2 separate regions of the Homo sapiens genome follow, and region 2 is linked to region 1. Evidence: fine-mapped expression QTL. A gene starts in region 1. The other region holds a variant in brackets. All regions are shown on one strand. Distances are from middle to middle.

Evidence for each region.
Region 2: its variant is fine-mapped to the expression of LINC01719 in caudate (GTEx, PIP above 0.99). The same link has a PIP of 0.9 or more in putamen.

What each region holds. Positions count from the first base shown.
Region 1 is chr1:146,047,658-146,057,318 of GRCh38, reverse strand. It overlaps LINC01719 (long intergenic non-protein coding RNA 1719), which reads right to left and starts at 4,723. Exons shown (of 3, transcript NR_125968.1): 1 at 4,371-4,723. It overlaps RNVU1-6 (RNA, variant U1 small nuclear 6), which reads left to right and starts at 5,075; the gene lies at 5,075-5,238. RefSeq lists enhancers at 4,405-5,136, 5,137-5,865 and a silencer at 4,986-5,225.
Region 2 is chr1:146,131,546-146,141,206 of GRCh38, reverse strand. It overlaps NBPF10 (NBPF member 10), which reads left to right. Exons shown (of 90, transcript NM_001302371.3): 4 at 651-723; 5 at 1,187-1,398; 6 at 2,762-2,971; 7 at 4,752-4,854; 8 at 5,686-5,900; 9 at 6,942-7,014; 10 at 7,479-7,684; 11 at 8,970-9,021. Among named protein-coding and RNA genes, the nearest start is that of NBPF10, 8.4 kb to the left of the region's middle. The variant C/G (reference allele first, on the strand shown) is at 4,885.

The DNA.
Region 1 (9,661 bases):
GGGAGGGAGGTTACCTTGCCCATTGGCAGCTGAAGATGGTTGGCCAGATGAGGGCACTGAAATCCATGTCCTCTAAACTTGTAGTTCAGTAAAAGAACGACAGCAGTAAAGGGTCTTTAGGAAGAGGAGGTGGAAGACCTGATTTGGGTTGGGGGCTCCAAGAAGAATGTCTGCCTTGCTGTGCAGAAGCCTCTGCATAACCTCCCTGGTCCCCTTGCTCAGTCTCCTGGCCAGACCCCTGTGAGCCCTGGAAGTGCACAGTCAGCTTAGCCAAGGCATCTCCAGCTGGGACTCATCCCTGGGCATTTCTGTGGCCTTGGGTTCCCTGGCCTCCTCCAGGCCCTGTCTTGCAGGCAATCGTCCTGCTAGGGAAGGGGGAAAGGAGGCTACTTGACAGTTAACTCTGAGCAGCTCCACAAGGTCCTGACTTAGCTCCTAGTCACTTGCAAACCTATATACCCCCATCTCATCCCCCAAACGATGAAAAGAAACTTTGCAGGACTCATGCCAGACAAATAGAGTGGGACCGTTCTGTAGAGCCAAGTTCTCAGGACATCAATAAGAGATGGAAACCACCTGCTGGAAGGTGCCACAGTGGGAACTTTGGGGCCAGGGAGCAGTCACTGAACTGTCAGGGTGAATCCTGGCTCCTGGCCCTCACACACCCTTTCTCCCCCTCCCTCCTTCTCTCCTCCCTCCTGTCTGCTCTTTCCCCTCTCTCTCCTGAATCCCTCAGGTACCTTCCATGGGCCCTGACCCCTCCTTTTCAGAGGCTCCAAAGTGAGCCCTCAAAACACTTGGTAACCTTGGACACTTCCAAAACTGGAGAGACTTGACCACAGCATTTTTATGAGCTAGGAAGGTCCTCCAGAGCTCTTGCCTAAATTTTTCTGCTGATGAGAAGAGAACAAGAGTTTCCATCTGATCTGGTCCTAAGGCAACTTCTCCTTGGAGCAGAGTCTGGGCAGGAAGAAGGGGGTTGCCCAGGACCCTGGACTTGCCCCTCCCAGCTGCTCTGCTCCTCTCCCCTTCACTGCGGGAGGCTGGCCAGGGATCAGGAACCTCCGTTCTCCACAGATGCTGGGATTCCAGGCTCAAATCTAAATATTGGCTGATTTAGGAGGCGAAGGGAGGCAATTCCCTGGAGGGAGGTGTCAGGATTTGGGACAAGAGCAGCATCTAGTTGTCATCCACAGAGACCCCAAGGACAGGAATCCACTGGTAGCCGGTTGGAGGGGATCCCATGAAAACAAGATGAAACGCGCCATTAGTACTGGACCCAAGATCAGGAGATGAAAAACTGCACTGTCCTAAGGGATGAAAGAATTAGGGAATCCTGGAAGTAAAGTTTTTCATATAGGTCATTTCTTCCAAAGAGACATAGGGCAATGGCCCAATGACATGAACAAAAGAAAACTCGGGGTCTAGGATTGAGGGGAGGCAGCCTTTTTAGTGGAGACCTGTGACCTGGAGGCCCAGGGTCACCCTGAGAGGGGAGGGGTCTTGCTGGTCGCTGGGTCCGGGACTCCAATTGCACACAGCCAGTGGCATGGAGGGTCTGTGACCACGATTGGGCAATTTCCCCCATTCTGCTTATGGAGCAATAGAGAGGAACCTCACTGGAATTATACAGAAAGGTCCCAGTGAGACTTGAACTCTGATCACTGTATTCAGAGTCCAAAGTGCTCACCATTACACCATGGAACCTCACACTAGCTTATAACTGGAGGTAACTGAGTTCATACTTAGCAGCCATAGTTCCCACACACCTATGTTAAGGCATTTCTTCTGATCCCTCAAGCAACACCAAGGAAGGTGGACCTGCGAGAGAGGAGTCATCCTCTTTCTTTCTTTCTCTCTGCCCTCTCCTTTGATCAACTTTTATCATTTCATTTGCACCTCAGAAAATGAGGCAAAATCCAGTTTGGGCTTAGGGCCAGAGAAGAGCCCTTGAGGCCTCCCTCTGGAAAACATACTCTCTCAGTTTACCAGAGTTTCCTGTACCAAGGGGAAATTTCCGCAAACAGTAGTGTTATATTCTTTTTGCCTTCCCTCTTTTCCCTTTGCCCAGGGAGGCCAGATGATTGTGAGAACAGGACTTGGGACTTCCTGTGTGTCTTGCCCCCTTCCTCCATGTGATAAATAATGGCTGACACCAAGCAAGTGGGATTGGGAGGCAGGGAATCTTTCATTTTCTTCTTCATATACTTCTACGCATTTGTTTGGTTGGTTTTGGCAAGATTTTCTCACCAGAAATGGAGATTTGTTGGATTTAAAATAAAAAGTAATCAGCCATGTTTTACATTTCTATAAAACACTCAAACCAGGCCATACTCCCCTGCTGTGCCTCAAAATCAACCATAAACTGTCGAGGTCAGGAGGCAGGGCCCTCACACTTAAGCACAGTGTGTTTCCTCAGAATTGGCCAAGTTGATGCCACTCCAATTTCTCAATATACCACAACCCATTAATTGCGGTTTTTAAAAGTGTACATGTATTTTTACCAAAACCCCAGGGCTTCAGTGTTCTCAGCACACAGAAAGACAATCATTGAGACATTGAGTATTGCTGAGGAAGAAGGCTTTAATCAGGTGCTGCAGCTGAGTAGACAGGAGATGAGTCTCAAATCTGTCTCCCTGATTGACTAAAGTTAGGGGTTTATATAGCGCAGAAGAAAAGTTAACTGTGTGTGGGAAAAGAGGAACTAGAGAGGGGTGAGGAAGCACTCGTGATGAGTGAGGGGACTGGCATCTCATTGTCTGGATGCTGTGATTGGCTGAGTTTCGGGTCTCTGATGCTTTTTGAGAGGCCTGAGAGTCCTTTCCTGAGGAAGGAACTCAGATAAAACAAATGTAAGTTTGTTTTATAGAATGGCTTGACCTCAGGAGTTTGAAACCAGCCTGGGCAATATGGTGAAACCCTGTCTCTACCAAAATACAAAAAGAAAAAGAGGGTTGCTTCCAAGATGGCTGAATAGGAACAGCTCCGGTCTACAGCTTCAAGTGAGATAGACGCAGAAGACAGGTGATTTCTGCATTTCCAACTGAGGTACCTGGTTCATCTCACTGGGACTCGTTGGACAGTGGATGCAGCCCACGGAGGATGAGCCAAAGCAGGGTGGGGTGTCGCCTCACCCGGGAAGTGCAAGGGGTTGGGGGATTTCTTTTTCCTAGCCAAGGGAAGCTGTGAGTGACTGTACCTCGAGAAGCAGTACACCCCTGCCCAAATACTGTGCTTTTTTCCACTGTCTTTGCAACCGACAGACCAGGAGATTCCCTCTTGTGCCTGGCTCGGCAGGTCCCATGCCCATGGAGCCTTGCCTGCTGCTAGCACAGCAGTCTGAGATCAACCTGTGACACTGGAGCATGGCAGGGGGAGGGGGTTCTGCCACTGCTGAGGCTTGAGTATGTGGTTCTATGGTCACAGTGTAAATAAAGTGGTAGGGAAGCTCGAACTGGGTAGAGCCCACTGCAGCTCAGCAAGGCCTACTGCCTCTAGATTCCACCTCTGGGGGCAGGGCATATCTGAATAAAAGGCAGCAGACAGCTTCTGCAGACTTAAACGTCCCTGCCTGACAGCAGGGACTGCTGTCATAATCATTATGATTATGAATCATAATCATGAAGACAATCTGTATTCCAGAATAGTAAGGGAACCTATTCCATCAGGGAGCCAACTGAAAACATCAAATCCCAGTTCACACCCCAGGGTGTGGTGTCATGCACCTGTAGTCCCAGCTACTTGGGAGGATTAGTAAGGAGGTTTGCTTGAATTCGTGAGGTCAAGGCAGAAGTAAACCCTGATCATGCCACTGTACTCCAACCTGGGCGACAGTGAGACCTTGTCTCAGAAACAAACAAACAAACAAAAAACCCCACAAAACCAAACAACAACAAATTGTCACCTCATTCTGAAATGACAGTGGCAAACATCACTTTGCTATTTGAAAATTAAAAGAAGCCGGGCGCGGTGGCTCACGCCTGTAATCCCAGCACTTTGGGAGGCCGAGGTGGGCGGATCACAAGGTCAGGAGATCGAGACCATCCTGGCTAACAGAGTGAAACCCCATCTCTACTAAAAATACAAAAAATTAGCCGGACGTGGTGGCAGGTGCCTGTAATCCCAGCTACTGGGGAGGCTGAGGCAGGAGAATGGCGTGAACCCGGGAGGCGGAGCTTGCAGTGAGCCGAGATAGCCCCACTGCACTCCAGCCTGAGCGAAGAGCGCGAGACTCCGTCTCAAAACAAAAAAAAAGAAAATTAAAAGAAAAACACTCCCTCTTGCTATCAACCTGCCCTCTTGCTCTAACTTGTCTGACCCATGGTTTAAAATGCCCAAAAGCTGATGTACTCAAATTATAGTACACTTACCTGTTCTGCACCAGCATTTACTTTTGTCTGGAGGAGATCACCATGCATGGTCCTATACATGTCTAATGGCATGGAATGATGAAGGGTAGTGTCTTTTAGGATAGTTGGATACATATATATATATATATATATATATATATATATATATATGCGGAATGCTACATCACAAGAATAAGAATGTGAAAAGAACCAGTTTCTTTTGTAATCCTAAACGTTCTAGTCTGAGAATTAAAAGCCATTGTTCGAAGAAGGGTGCCCAGGGTCCAGCTGGTCGCCGAAAGCTTGCTCCGCAATACAGGCTAAGGACCAGCTTCTTTGGAAGAGAACAGATGAGGGAAGCAGGAGAGAAAAAAGGGAGAGGCAGACGTCACTTCCCCTTGCCGGCTCCGGCAGCGGGTTGGTCGGCTGAGCGGCAGAAAGGCAGACGGGGACTGGGAAAGGCGCTGTCGGTGACATCACGGATAGGGCGACTTCTATGTAGATGAGCCAGCGCAGGGGCTGCTGCTTCGCCACATGCTGCTTCGCCACGAAGGAGTTCCCGTGCCGTGGGAGCGGGTTCAGGACCGCTGGTCGGACCTGAGAGTCCCAGCTGTGTGTCAGGGCTAGGAGGGCTGGGGGGGAGGGGGGTGTGCGCGGGGCAAGTGACCGTGCGTGTAAAGGGTGAAGCGTGTGAGGCTGCCGGCGGGGCGGAGGTGCAATAACTCATACTTACCTGGCAGGAGAGATACCCTGGTCACGAAGGTGGTTTTTCCAGAGCGAGTCTTATCCATTGCACTCCGGATCTGCTGACCCCTGCAGTTTCCCCAAATGTGGGAAACTTGACTGTATAATTTGTGGCAGTGGTAGACTGCATTCGCGCTTTCCCCTGTATTTTTGTCGTTTTAAAAATAGGTTTTGTTTGCTGCAGAAACGCATACTGGGCGTCAGCGTAAGCTGAGAATCAGGTCTTTGTTCCCATCTGTAACTTCACTGAAACTAAAAATTTGGGACATCGTGGTTCTCACGTTTGTAATCCCAGCAATCTATGAGGTACGTCGATAGGTTATGTTTATGTTAATATCGCTCGACCTCAGGCGTGTGTGGGCAAATATAGTGAACCCGTCTCTACTAATCTCTTATCTTTTTTTGTTGTTGTTCTATAGAAATAAAACTAAGCTTTTCTTTTCCCTATGGGATTAACAGCAAACAGTCCGCTGGAGTGTATGGCGCGATCTCGCCTTACTGCAACCTTTGCCTCCTGCGTTCAAGCTATTCTCCTTCCTCAACCAGAGAATACTCAGCCTCCCGAGTAACTGGCATTACAGGCTCAGGCAACCAAAAAATTAGGTCCGGCTAATTTTTTGAATTTTTAGTAGAGACATGGTTTCACCGGGCCGGGCGCACTGGCTCGCGCCTGTAATCCCAGCACTTTGGGAGGCGGAAGCGGGTGGATCATGAGGTCAGGAGGTCAAGACCATCCTGGCTAACACAGTGAAACCCCATCTCTAATAAAAATACAAAAAAAAAAAATTAGCCGGGTGTGGTGGCACGTGCCTGTAGTCCCAGCTACTCAGGAGGCTGAGGCAAGAGAATCGCTTGAACCCGGGAGGCAGAGGTTGCAGTGAGCTGAGATCGCACCACTGCACTCCAGCCTGGGCGACAGAGTGAGACTCCGTCTCAAAAAAAAAAAAAAAAAAAAAGAGTGACAGGGTTTCACCATGTTGGCCACCCTGGTCTTGAACTCCTGACCTCAAGTTTTCCGCCTGCCTCGCGGCCTCCCAAAATGTTGGGATTACAGGCCTGAGCCACCGCACCTGGCCTGTTTACAGACTTTACAGACACATTTTGTTTACAAGCTTTACAGGTACAGTTCAATTGCGATTAGTGTATATTATGTTTGGCCCAAGACAAGTGTCTTTTTTTTTTTTCCAGTGTGGCCCAAGGAAGCCAAAATTTAGACAACCCTGCTCTAGAGGGTTTGATTCATGGTTCCACTGGGTTATGCTTATTGCCTATAATTCCATTTGATATTTTCCAAATTTGATTTTTTAAAAAGCGTTTTCCTGAAGCACCCTAAAGCTTTCCTAATAATATGAGAACTTAAACCAGATTGGATGTGACAAAACCCTGCTGGAATCCTGCAACTTCTAACCTTAATGTTAGATCAAGAAGCAAAACACCCACCAGTCCAAGGGTCAGGGAAGCTGAAGATCATGCCTGAGCTGTAACAACGCCCTTCCCAGTATACAAAAGAGTGTAACAGCCACTCGAATTCTATCTTCCAAGTGTCTCCTGTTGCCCAGGCTAACCTAGAGCTATCTAAAGATGGCAAATCTGGGAAATGTGCATTCAGCTTGGCAAAACTGATACATTACAAATCCACCACAGTCCACTTCTTCTCAAAGTGGCATCAATGTACATCTTCCTCCTCTTCTTTTTTTCCTCCTCTTCCTCTTCTTTTGCTTCTTCCTCCTCCTTTTTCCTCCTTGTAAAATCATACTTAAGGTTCAAATAAAGACAATATGAAAATCATACTTTTTCTCATTCAGTGAAAATATGCCAACCCTTTCCCCAACAGGATAAAGTCTTTGTCTTTGAATGATGTTCACTCCTTTTTTAGCTAGATAGATCACATTCCATATTTGCTTTCCTGTAACCTAAATATTGAGATTTCTAAAAGTTAATTATTAATGAATGTGCTAGCTAGGGTGATGGAAGAGGAGAATTCTCAAGAAAAGTTTTGGTTAATATACACCCAAATGTATTCATCTCAAAATAATGAAGAAATACTCATAACTATTACAAGTCCTGATTTCTGCAACTGGCACTGGCACTAGCTGGTATTTGTAACTATCTTCACATCTTGTACCCACAGCCAGTTCCTTTGGGCCTGGGCCGGTGGACGTGAGCGTGGGAAGGACAAGAACCCGCGGTGCCCCCCACCGCACTATCCTCGGGTCTCCAGAGGTGGGATCCACCGGGCAGGGGCCTTTGCTGGATTCTAAACCGGCTCTGGGGATACAAGAACAGCTGCCTTTGAGAAACAGTTCAGGTCTCTATATTCCAGACTTCCTAGTAGGACTAAACGCTTAACGTTCACACGGGAATTCATGGTTCTCCTAAAACCCTGCGGTGGAATGCCTTCCTTCACCAAGCATTTATTGGGCACCTACTAGGTGCTAGGCTGGCTCTGGGCGAAGGGCTGCAGCCTGTGCAAACTCCAGGTCCCTGTCCGGTGGATCCCACCTCTGAGGGCCCGAGGGTGACGCGGTGAGGACACCACGGGTTCTGGTCCTTCCCACGCGCGCGTCCGCTAGCCCAGGCCCGGCGGAAATGACTGTGAGCTCAAGGTGTGAAGCGGGGCTAAGAATGGGAAAGCGAGTGACTTCCGCCGGAGAAGCTGCAGTTGTCGCCTGTAGAGGGGCCGGCGACTTTTGAGACGGTGAAGAGCAGGCGGGGGAACCAGTGAAGAGCAGACGGTGAGGAGCAGGCGGCCGTTTGGCCGTTGGAGTCCCCCAGCTGACTCTGCCCGGGTAGAACGTCCAAAGTGCCCAAAGACTCGACTCTTGGCTTCAATGTCTCCCGTGTTCTGGGTTTCTGGAGTGCGCGGGATTGGACAGGCTACAAACATATGAGATTATCTACGGCCAGAGGTTAAAATGCCATTTCTGGTATCAGCAAATCTAAACCATTAGAGTCTCTGTGGCGCCATCGGTTAGTGCCTTCGGCTGTTTGAACCGAAAGGCTGGTGGTTCAAGCCCACCCAGAGATGGTACCTTTTACTTAGGCAAGATTCACGCTTTCTGTTTAAAGACTTTAATCCTGGGAATCTTCCGGACCTCTACTAGCTTTAAATTCGATGCCAAAATACGCTGTGCGAAGGCTCAAGTTCCATGGAAGTTCCTAAAAACAAGAATATTTCAGCAAAAGTAATTTTTCAATAGAGCCTGAGCCTGGGGCTTCAGAGCTTACTCCAGAGCCACTGCACTTATTTCATCACTTCCTGAAGCTGGGTTTTTACAACTGCACATTCCTGGAAATCCAAAACTCCCAATAATTGAAAACAAGAAAATCCCAGTCTTCACTTGTGGTGAAGCCTCAATTTCCAGGTTGAAATCTTGGTTGGTTCATGATGTGACTTTTAAAACGTTACTGAATTTTCTGTATCTCTATTTCTTCATCTATAAAAACAGAAAAAAAAAAGTGCTTCCCTTTCCTGGGTGTGGTGGCTCATGCCTGTAATTGCAGCAGTTTGGGAGGATGAGGCGGGCAGATCACCTAAGGTTAGGAGTTCGAGACCTGCCTGGTCAACTTGGTGAAACCCCATCTCTACTAAAAATACAAAAATGAGCTGGGCGTGGTGGCAGGTGCCTGTAATCCCAGCTACTTGAGAGGCTGAGGCAGGAGAATAGTTTGAACCCAGGAGGCAGAGGTTGCAGTGAGCCAAGATTGCGCCACTGCACTCCAGCCTGGTAACAGAGCCGACTCCATCTCAAAAAATAATAATAATAATAAATAAATAAACAATGCTTCTCTCATGGATTAATCTAACATTTGTGAATCCAAAAGTATGTGAGACAGGTCTCAATAAATTTAGAAAGTTTACCTTGCAAGGTTAAGGTGGCACCCATGACACAGTTTCAGGAGGTCCTGGCAACATGTGCCCAAGGTGGTCGGGTACAGCTTGCTTTTATTCATTTTAGGGAGACAGAATACATCGATCAATACATGTAAGATTTACACTGCTTCAATCTGGAAGGGCGGGACAACTCAAAGGGTGGGGGGCTTCCAGGTCATAGATTTAAAATTTTTCTGATTAGCTATTGGTTGAAAGAGTTCTTATTCCAGAAGGGAATTTCTGGGTTAGATAGGGGGTTGTGGAGACCAAGGTTTTACCATGCAGATGAAGCCTCCAGGTAGCAGGCTTCAGAGAAAATAGATTGTAAATGTTTCTTATCAGACTTAAGGTCTGTGTTGATGTTAATGCTGGTTGGCTTTTCCTGAGTTCCAAAAGGAAGGAGGGTATAATGAGGCATGTCCAACTTCTTCCCATCATGGCCTGAACTAGTTTTTCAGGTTAACTGTGGAATGACCTTGACCTAGAGCAGGGGTCCATTCACATGGCTGGGGGGCCTTAGAATTTTATTTTTGGTTACACATTTGATGAGAAATACACATAAAGCATTTGAGCACCTAATAAATGTTCATTAAACGTTAGCTGCTATAATTATTTTCAGTGGCATCATCATCACCACTTTCATATTTTACCTCAGGCTTTTAAACAACTGCTTATCTTTTTATGGTATGGATGA
Region 2 (9,661 bases), 84 kb before region 1:
TCTCTCCATCTGCAAAGGCAGACAAATTGTCTCTTGCAAGGGTCTGAAGCATCCAAATATGGGAACACTTACGAATGCTTTTCAAAATGAGATGAAGCCCCTCTCCATGTGGTGTTGGAGAAGGCACTTGATGTGGGGGCATTTGGTGGTAGGAAGTGCTTCAGACTGGAGCACTCCCCATGGATAGAATGTCCCTGAATAACACAGCAGAAGCCACATGGAGGGCCTGTGCAGTCTCATGACGCATAGAGGACTGTGGGACAAGTTTGTCCTCTCCTAAGAGAAAGAATGAGGTTTGAAATGCGAACTGTGACAGGACACCAAGCCTGTTCCTGGGAATCAGATCTGTGGCAGGATGGGGGAGACAGCTGCCAAAGTCCAGAGAGAGGCTGCACAAGCCTCCAGTGATATGGGAAGCAAAAGGTCTTTTCGGTATTTGGCCACATCTTGATGGTGGCCCTCCACATCAGAAATGCATTGCCCGATGGAGCAGGAAACCATGCCAGGGCATTTTGTGAAAGATAAAACATGAGAGTTTTCAGTACAATGCTGAACCATACATAGATGTTCATGTCTCTGTGCACGTTGGGCTGGCTGTGCTTGCAGAATGTGAAGTGGGAAATATCTGAACGAACATTTTGTATTTCTAGAAAATGACGAAGATGAGGATGAAGATGTTCAAGTTGAGGAGGCTGAGAAAGTACTGGAATCATCTGCCCCCAGGTAACACTGAATACTCAGGAGCAAGTAATGGGTGGTAACGTATGAAAATGTCTAGGAGGCACACCCTCTCTGGCATCTATGATGGGCCAAATGCCCGCATTCCCTTGGCCACAGTATGTGAAATTGAACCCAGCTTAGACACAGGGTGCGGCAGCTGTCGTGTTTCTCTATGTGTGCCAAGTGTCATGTCTGTACCATGCAGGGATAGCTGAGTCTTCATCCTCCTCAGCTCCTATCTGTTCAGTGCACTGAACACCAGCTGCTCTCTTCCTCTCTGGCTCCCATGGCAGCCATGGTCTGTTGCAGAGAGAAGAGGATTGCCTGTTCCCTCTTTAAGGGAACCTCCGTTTTGCTTTCTGGAACCACTCTCTTAATGCCGCCTGTCAAAACCAGCTAGGACTCCCTGGGGTCCAATCCCTCTGTGTTTAATCTTCTGTCATCTCTGTCCCACCTGGCTCATCAGGGAGGTGCAGAAGGCTGAAGAGAGCAAAGTCCCTGAGGACTCACTGGAGGAATGTGCCATCACTTGTTCAAATAGCCACGGCCCTTGTGACTCCAACCAGCCTCACAAGAACATCAAAATCACATTTGAGGAAGACGAAGTCAACTCAACTCTGGTTGTAGACAGAGAATCCTCTCATGATGAATGTCAGGATGCTCTAAACATTCTCCCAGGTAGCCTCTATTTTCCTTGTGTCTCATACCTCTGTCTAGGCTATGGAAGATCAATTCTGAGGACAGGCTGTATATACACATATTGTTATTGTTTTAGTCAGAAACTAGGATGGAGCTAGGTGCTGTGACTCACACATATAATCACAGCACTTTGGAAGGCCCAAGTGGGACGATGACTTGAGTTCAGGAGTTGAAGACCAGCCTACACAATATGGTGAAACCCATCTTTACAAAGAATACAAAAAATTAGGCAGGCATGGTGCTGCACGCCTATAGTCCCAACTGCTCAGGAGACTTAGGTGGGAGGATGGGCTGAGATGATCCTCCCACTCTCATTCACTTCTGTCAGGCTAGACTCTCTCTCCTTTTCATTGGCTTGTCTTAGCTATTAATAAGTCTCGGCTGGGCGCAGTGGGTCACACCTGTAATCCGAGCACTTTGGGAGGCCGAGGCGGGTGGATCATGAGGTCAGGAGATTGAGACCATCCTGGCTAACACGGTGAAACCCCGTCTTTACTAAAAATACAAAAAAAAAAAAAAAAATAGCTGGGCGTGGTGGTGGGCGCCTGTAGTCCCAGCTACTCAGGAGGCTGAGGCAGGAGAATGGCATGAACCCAGGAACCGGAGCTTGCAGTGAGCCGAGATTGTGCCACTGCACTCCAGCCTGGGAGACAGAGCGAGACTCCATCTCAAAAAAAAAAAAAAAAAAAAAAAAAGTAAGTCTCTGACCAGGGGCGCTGGCTCACATCTTAATCCCAGCACTTTGGGAGGCTGAGGTGGGCGGAACACCTGAGCTCAGGAGTTCGAAACCAGCCTGTCCAAGATGGCGAAACCCCGTCTCTACTAAAAATACAAAAATTAGCTGGCATGTTACTTGGCGCTTGTAATCCCAGATGCTTGGCAGGCTGAGGGATGAGAATCGCTTGAACCCGGGCGGCAGAGGTGGCAGTGAGCTGAGATTGTGCCTCTGCACTGCAGCCTGCGTGACAGAGTGAGACTCCGTCTCAAACAAAAAACAAAAAACCAAAAAAGAAAAAAATTAAAAAAGCAAAATGAAATCTTTTGTGCTACACAGAAACATTGGCCACTCATGGGGTAAAAATCTCAGGGCCAAGCCTTGCTTTATAGAAACGTATAAGCAAGAAAAGTGTAGAAGTGTTTATGTCCTGGTTTCAAGGTGACTGCATAGCTAAGACAAGTTGACTTAAAGGAGATCAAGACTGGAGATGACAAGAGTGAAACCAGGGAAACATCATCTTCAAATAAGTAAACAAGGCTGCCAGTGACATCCCTCAGTCCTGATTAAGCCTATTTGATTTCACCAGTTTTTAACCCATCATGTGTTTGCCTTTCTTCTCCCCAGTCCCTGGCCCCACCTCTTCTGCCACAAACGTCAGCATGGTGGTATCAGCCGGCCCTTTGTCCAGCGAGAAGGCAGAGATGAACATTCTAGAAATCAATGAGAAATTGCGCCCCCAGCTGGCAGAGAAGAAACAGCAGTTCAGAAACCTCAAAGAGAAATGTTTTCTAACTCAACTGTCCGGCTTCCTGGCCAACCAACAGAAGAAATACAGTAAGATCTATAGGCTCACCATCATGAAAGTGATGAATGATATCCTGTCTTCTCTCTGAGACACTAAATGCTCTCTCCATCAAAAATAATTTCATCCTTCCTGTACTTCTAGGAAAACAGAAATGGGTATTTTAACATTTTGTCAAAGTTGGAAGACAGAGGTACCAAAGTATTTAGCAACTTTCCATGTTTGCAATCAGGTGGGGGTGGGACTAGAGTTAAACTGCCATTTATTGATTTCTGACACAGGCACAGAATGACCTGTTTTCTCCAAGAGGCTCAATCGTGTTTTCAAGAATCCTCTCTGTACCATATAAGATCCTGCAGACAAATAACATCTAGTCTGTTGTTCTAAATGTCTGAGACTAGTGAACTTTTATTCAGTTCAAGTTTCTGTTGAGGCCCAACAGGCAAAGCTCTGTTCTAGTGACTCTGAGGGGAACTTGGTGATAGTAGCCAGTACCTGCTCTGAGGGGCTTCAAGAGGAGTCTACTCCTAATAGAACCTGTGCTGTCTATAAGTGACAGCATCAAGAGCAGGGAGTAGGGGCCGTGCATGGTGGCTCACTCCTGTAATCCCAGCACTTTGGGAGGCTGAGGCGGGCAGATCATGAGGTCAGGAGTTTGAGACCAGCCTGGGCAACATGGAGAAACCCCATCTCCACTAAAAATACAAAAAGTAGATGGGCGTGGTGGCAGGTGACTGTAATCACCCCTGCTCAGGAGGCTGAGGCAGGAGAATCCTTTGAACCCAGGAGGCTGAGGTTGCAGTGAGCCAAGATTTTGCCATTGCACTCCAGCCTGGGCGACAGGGCAAGACTGTTAAAAATAATAATAATAATAATGATAAATAAAAATAAGAATAAAAAGCAGAGAGTAGCTTGGTGAGAGTGAAGTCCTGCTTCCTGGGGCACAGAGTCTTGTTGCTAAAGAGGAAGAAAGATCGCACCCGAGAATGTGTGGAGATAGCAGTGCAGTGTACAGAGCAGGGACCGTGGGCCTGTCTCCTGGGCTCCATCCAAGTTGCTTGTCTTGTCTGTCCCTCAGTTTCCTCACCTGTTCAGAGGGTACTACAATAATACCTACCTCTGTAAATTGCTGCAGTGAATTACATGAGCTATTTCTTGTCAATCTCCTAGAACATTTATTGGCACACAGTAAACACTATCTATTAGTTCTTCATTCTGCTGTTTCTAAATTAACACAAACTTTATTAGCATTTGGGCATATTTCCTTCATGGCCTTATGGTGTTATGTGTCACACTTTATGCTTCAGATATGATTCTTAAAATCATAACTGAAGATATGATTTAAAAATCAAAGATTTTAAAAATCTTTCGCATACTTGTCCTTGAAATTCCCAGTAAAAGGGAAACCATCAGTCCCATAGTCCTAGGGGCCTTCCCGACTGTACAAGAAATCACTACTTCATGCCCCAGTGCAGTGTTTTAGAGGAGAGGCTGCAAGGCTTGGGAAAGTGGCCCCGCATTCAGAGTCAGACCTCAGGGACTGTGAATTCTGACTCCACTTCATTGTGGTTGAATCATCTTGTCAACTTCCTTGATGTGCCCTTGAGGTTCTCTTTCTTCATCTCTAAATTTTGGAGGATCAGATGCCAGAAAGTCAGGAGACTGAAGAGTAAAGATGTGGAAATCCCTGTCTAGACCCTGGTACTGGGGAGAGTTTTGTCCTTGGGATGGACCTGGCTCCTGTCCTGTAGGCAATGACCACAGCAGCATGTCCAGCCTTCCACTGAGGCAGGTGTGTCTGTCTTTTCTCAGAATATGAAGAGTGCAAAGACCTCATAAAATTTATGCTGAGGAATGAGCGACAGTTCAAGGAGGAGAAGCTTGCAGAGCAGCTCAAGCAAGCTGAGGAGCTCAGGTGAGGGGACCCCATGGGGGCAGGCAGGGG[C/G]GCAGGTGTGTAAATCTCTGAAGTACAGCAGCTCGGTGGGGAGACGTAAGAGCTAAGCTGGGCCAGGGGAAGGGCAGGAATTGCCATGGCAGGCTCGCTACACACAAATATTTATCAGAGAAGAAGGATAGTAAAAATGTATGGGTTGCAGTTGTTTCTCAGAGCCTTGTTTTCTCTTTTTCAAACAAGTAATTGTTGATGTGAAATTTACATAACACAAAATTAACCAAAGGAGTGTGAACCACACAGCAGCATTCAGTATACTCAAAATGGTGTGCCATCACCACCCCACTTACCCTTAGTGAGAATCACCTCCTGACTGACTGCGGCTTCTCATTCTTTCACTCAATCAATGTTGCCTTCTCGACCCTGTCCTTCTTTTCTTCTTTCATCTTTTCAATTCGCCCCATCTGCACCTGGCCTCATTTCTGTACATGGCTTTGTATCTAGTGGCCGCAAGATGCACTATGTGTATTTTCACATGGAAATGTCCATGGCCAGAGTGAGGAACTGAAAGGATGTCTTTTTGAAACGGAATTAGGAAGACACCTACTTTTGTTTACAGAAGAGAAAGATGAATGGAACATCATCGAGGATCTTGCAAGAGCCCTCTCTGATACAGAGGAAGCCTGTAAACCATTTTCTATTCTTTCTCTTGGCCACAGACATTCCTTTCCACATGTGCTGACCTTCTGCTTCGAGGTCTCCTTGAGGACATTGTCTCAGAAATCTCTGTTGCAATATTTGAGCGGATCACTCAACCCTTTCCACTCTTAAATTTTCTCTACCGTCTCACCTTAGGCAATATAAAGTCCTGGTTCACGCTCAGGAACGAGAGCTGACCCAGTTAAAGGAGAAGTTACGGGAAGGGAGAGATGCCTCCCGCTCATTGAATGAGCATCTCCAGGCCCTCCTCACTCCGTATGAGCCGGACAAGTCCCAGGGGCAGGACCTCCAAGAACAGCTGGCTGAGGGGTGTAGACTGGCACAGCACCTTGTCCAAAAGCTCAGCCCAGGTAAGGTGGCCATAGGCCCTGATGACCCAAAATCCCAGGCTTATGAGAGACTCCAGACCTCCATACTTTCACAATGACAGTTGTATCAATGGTGTTTTTTTCCACTAAGCTTATGTGGCCATGACATGACCAGGACTTCTTGGGTAAGAACGGAGATGGGAAACCCATGGGGTTGGAGGTCACAGTATTGCAAGTGTCCCTCCTCCCTTGATGAAAGGTGGTCTTTGGAGCAAGAGGCAGCATCTGTCTAGTTTTAAAGGACAGGAAGGAGGCTGCGATGGGAGCAGGCTTGTTAGAGTGAAAAGAGCTCAGGACTAAGAATGAAGGTTCCCAGGCTGTCTTTTCGGCAATGTTCTTAGTAACTGTCAGAGAGTGAATGACTTGTCCTTCCTGAGTTTCTCTCTCTCCGTGGCAGACAAATTGTCTCTTGCAAGGGTCTGAAGCATTCAAATGTGGGAACACTTACAACTGCTTTCCAAAATGAGATGAAGGCCCTTGCCGTGTGATGTTGGAGAAGGCACTTTATGTGGGGGCGTTTTGTGGTAGGAAGTGCTTCAGACTGGAGCACTCCCCATGGATAGAATGTCCCTGAAGAACACAGCAGAAGCCACTTGGAGGCTTGAAATCTTCTGATGCATAGAGGACTGTGGGACAAGTTTGTCTGCTTCTAAGAGAAAGAATGAGGTTTGAAATGCAAACCGTGACAGGACACCAAGCCTGTGCCTGGGAATCAGATCTGGCAGGATGGGGGAGACAGCTGCCAACGTCCAGAGAGAGGCTGCACAAGCCTCCAGTGATATGGGAAGCAAAAGGTCTTTTCAATATTTGGCCACATCTTGATGGTGGCCCTCCAGATCAGAAATGCATTGCCTGATGGATCAGGAAACCATGCCAGGGCATTCTGTTAAAGATAAAACATGAGAGTTTTCAGTTGAACGGTGACCCATGCCTAGATGTTCATGTCTCTGTTGCACATTGGGCTGACTGTGCTTGCAGACTGTGAAGTGGGAAATACCTGAACGAACACTTCTGTATTTGCAGAAAATGACAACGATGACGATGAAGATGTTCAAGTTGAGGTGGCTGAGAAAGTGCAGAAATCATCTGCCCCCAGGTAACACTGAATACTCAGGAACAATTAATGGATGGTAACATATGAGGAATATCTAGGAGGCACACCCTCTCTGGCATCTATGATGGGCCAAAAACCCGCATTCGCTTGGCCACAGTATGTGAAATATAATCCAGCTTAGACACAGGGTGCGGTAGCTGTCATGTTTCTCTATGTGTGCTGAGTGTCATGTCTGCACCGTACAGGGATAGCTGAGTCTTCATCCTCCTCAGCTCCTATCTGTCCAGTGCAATGAACAGCAGCTGCTCTCTTCCTCTCTGGTTCCCATGGCAGCCATGCTCTGTTGCAGAGAGAACAGGATTGCATGTTCCCTCTTAATGGGAACCTCCATTTTGCTTTCTGGGACCACTCTCTTAATGCCGCCTGTCAAAACCAGCTAGGACTCCCTGGGGTCCAATCCCTCTGTGTTTAATCTTCTGTCATCTCTGTCCCACCTGGCTCATCAGGGAGATGCAGAAGGCTGAAGAAAAGGAAGTCCCTGAGGACTCACTGGAGGAATGTGCCATCACTTATTCAAATAGCCATGGCTCTTATGACTCCAACCAGCCACATAGGAAAACCAAAATCACATTTGAGGAAGACAAAGTCGACTCAACTCTCATTGGCTCATCCTCTCATGTTGAATGGGAGGATGCTGTACACATTATTCCAGGTAGCCTCTGTTTTCCTTGTGTCTCATACCTCTCTCTAGGCTGAGAAAGATAAACTCTGAAGACAGGCTCTATAAACACAAATTCATTTGAATAAAAAACTGTGATGGGTTTCTAAACAGATATCAGGGAGTTTGTTTGTCCTTCTCAGCTAATGTCATGACTTTGTCTGCCAGTCCCCAGTATCAAGTTACTCAACCCCAGGCAAGTGTGACAATCTCATAGTCACCTGAGTGCAGGAGGTGCACAGGCAGTATCTGTCAGGCCTCCTATCTTCGATTCAGTATCTCTTGTCATCTGTGATTAAGTCATCTGTCCCTGAACAATGTCCATGGAGTTTCTATGCCTGTTTAAGGAAGCTGGCAGCCTTGCCTTTGTATTTGGAAATATTGTTCCCCAGGCTTCACTGCTCTCAGCTTTCATCTGGATCTCCTTTAAGTCAGCTTGCTTAGCTGCACAGTCACCCTGAAATCAGGACGGAAACTTTTCTTCTTTACTTTGCTGATATATTTCCATAAAGCAAGGCTGGACCCTGGTTCTCCACCCTGTCAATGCAATGGCTGATCCAATGTTTCTTTGTAGCATCGTGGATTTTTTTTTTTTTTTTTTTTGCAATGGAGTCTTGCTCTGTCACCCAGGCTGGAGTGCAGTGGCACCATCTTGGCTTGGTGCAACCTCTGCCTCCCAGATTCAAGTGATTCTCCTGCCTCAGCCTCCTGAGTTGCTGGGACCACAGGTGCACAACATCACATCTGGCTAATTTTTGTATTTTTAGTAGAGACAGGGTTTCCCCATATTGGCCAGGGTAGTCCTGAACTCATGACCTCAAATGATTCACCTGTCTTGGCCTCCCAAATCACAGATTCTTTTTAAAGCAAGAGTTGTTCAAATTTATCTATCAGTCGTGTTTCATGTATAGATGCCTCTAAACATTTAATGTCCATGTTACCTGGTGATATAAGTCCGTATCGCAGCAACACTCTTAGAAAATTGTTTGACCAATTTTTGGAGATTTTTTTGGGGAAAAAATTTTGTTTAACTTTGACTCAGGCAGGGAATATGGCATTATGGTCTACACGTAGAGGGAGATTTTGGCCTGTGGGTCTGGAAAGCAGGGTCATCTAATTCTCACCAAAGTTAATCTAGGACACCCTAGAATATTCCTGTCAGAATCCTTATTCTTGCACTGAGAATAGTTATGTCCTTGTGCTATGACTGGACAGTGATTTGTTCATATGTGAAGTATGAATTGCTTAATGTGACCTGCTTCTCTGAATTTATTTACAGAAAATGAAAGTGATGATGAGGAAGAGGAAGAAAAAGGGCCAGTGTCTCCCAGGTAATGTTGTGGAATTGTTGGCTGTTAATTCAGTAGTGACATCTGGAGATTGTAGATTTAGGGAAAATGAGGAAGTGATGAATAGAACTATTTCTTCCATTCACCCAGCTACAAATTGTGCTGATTTACAATGTTGTATGTTATTTGTGGCACTTGTATTGGTTTTAATTTCATAGTCCTCTCAAGATAGGAACTTGCCATCAGATGAGCCAGGTGAACTAGCCAAACAGGGTTTTCTTGTTGATCTTTTCAAAAAACCAGCCCTGGATTCATTGATTTTTTGAAGGGTTTTTTGTGTCTCTATCTCCTTTAGTTCTGCTCTGATCTTAGTTACTTCTTGTCTTCTGCTAGCTTTTGAATTTGTTTGCTTTGCTTCTCTAGTTATTTTAATTGTGATGTTAGGGTGTCAATTTTAGATCTTTTCTGCTTTCTCTTGTGGGCATTTAGTGCTATAATTTTCCCTCTACACATTGCTTTAAATGTGTCCCAGAGATTCTGGTATGTTGTGTCTTTGTTCTCATTGGTTTCAAAGAACATCTTTATTTCTGCCTTCATTTTGTTATTTTCCCAGTAGTCATTCAGGAGCAGGTTGTTCAGTTTCCATGTAGTTGTGTGGTTTTGAGTGAGTTTCTTAATCCTG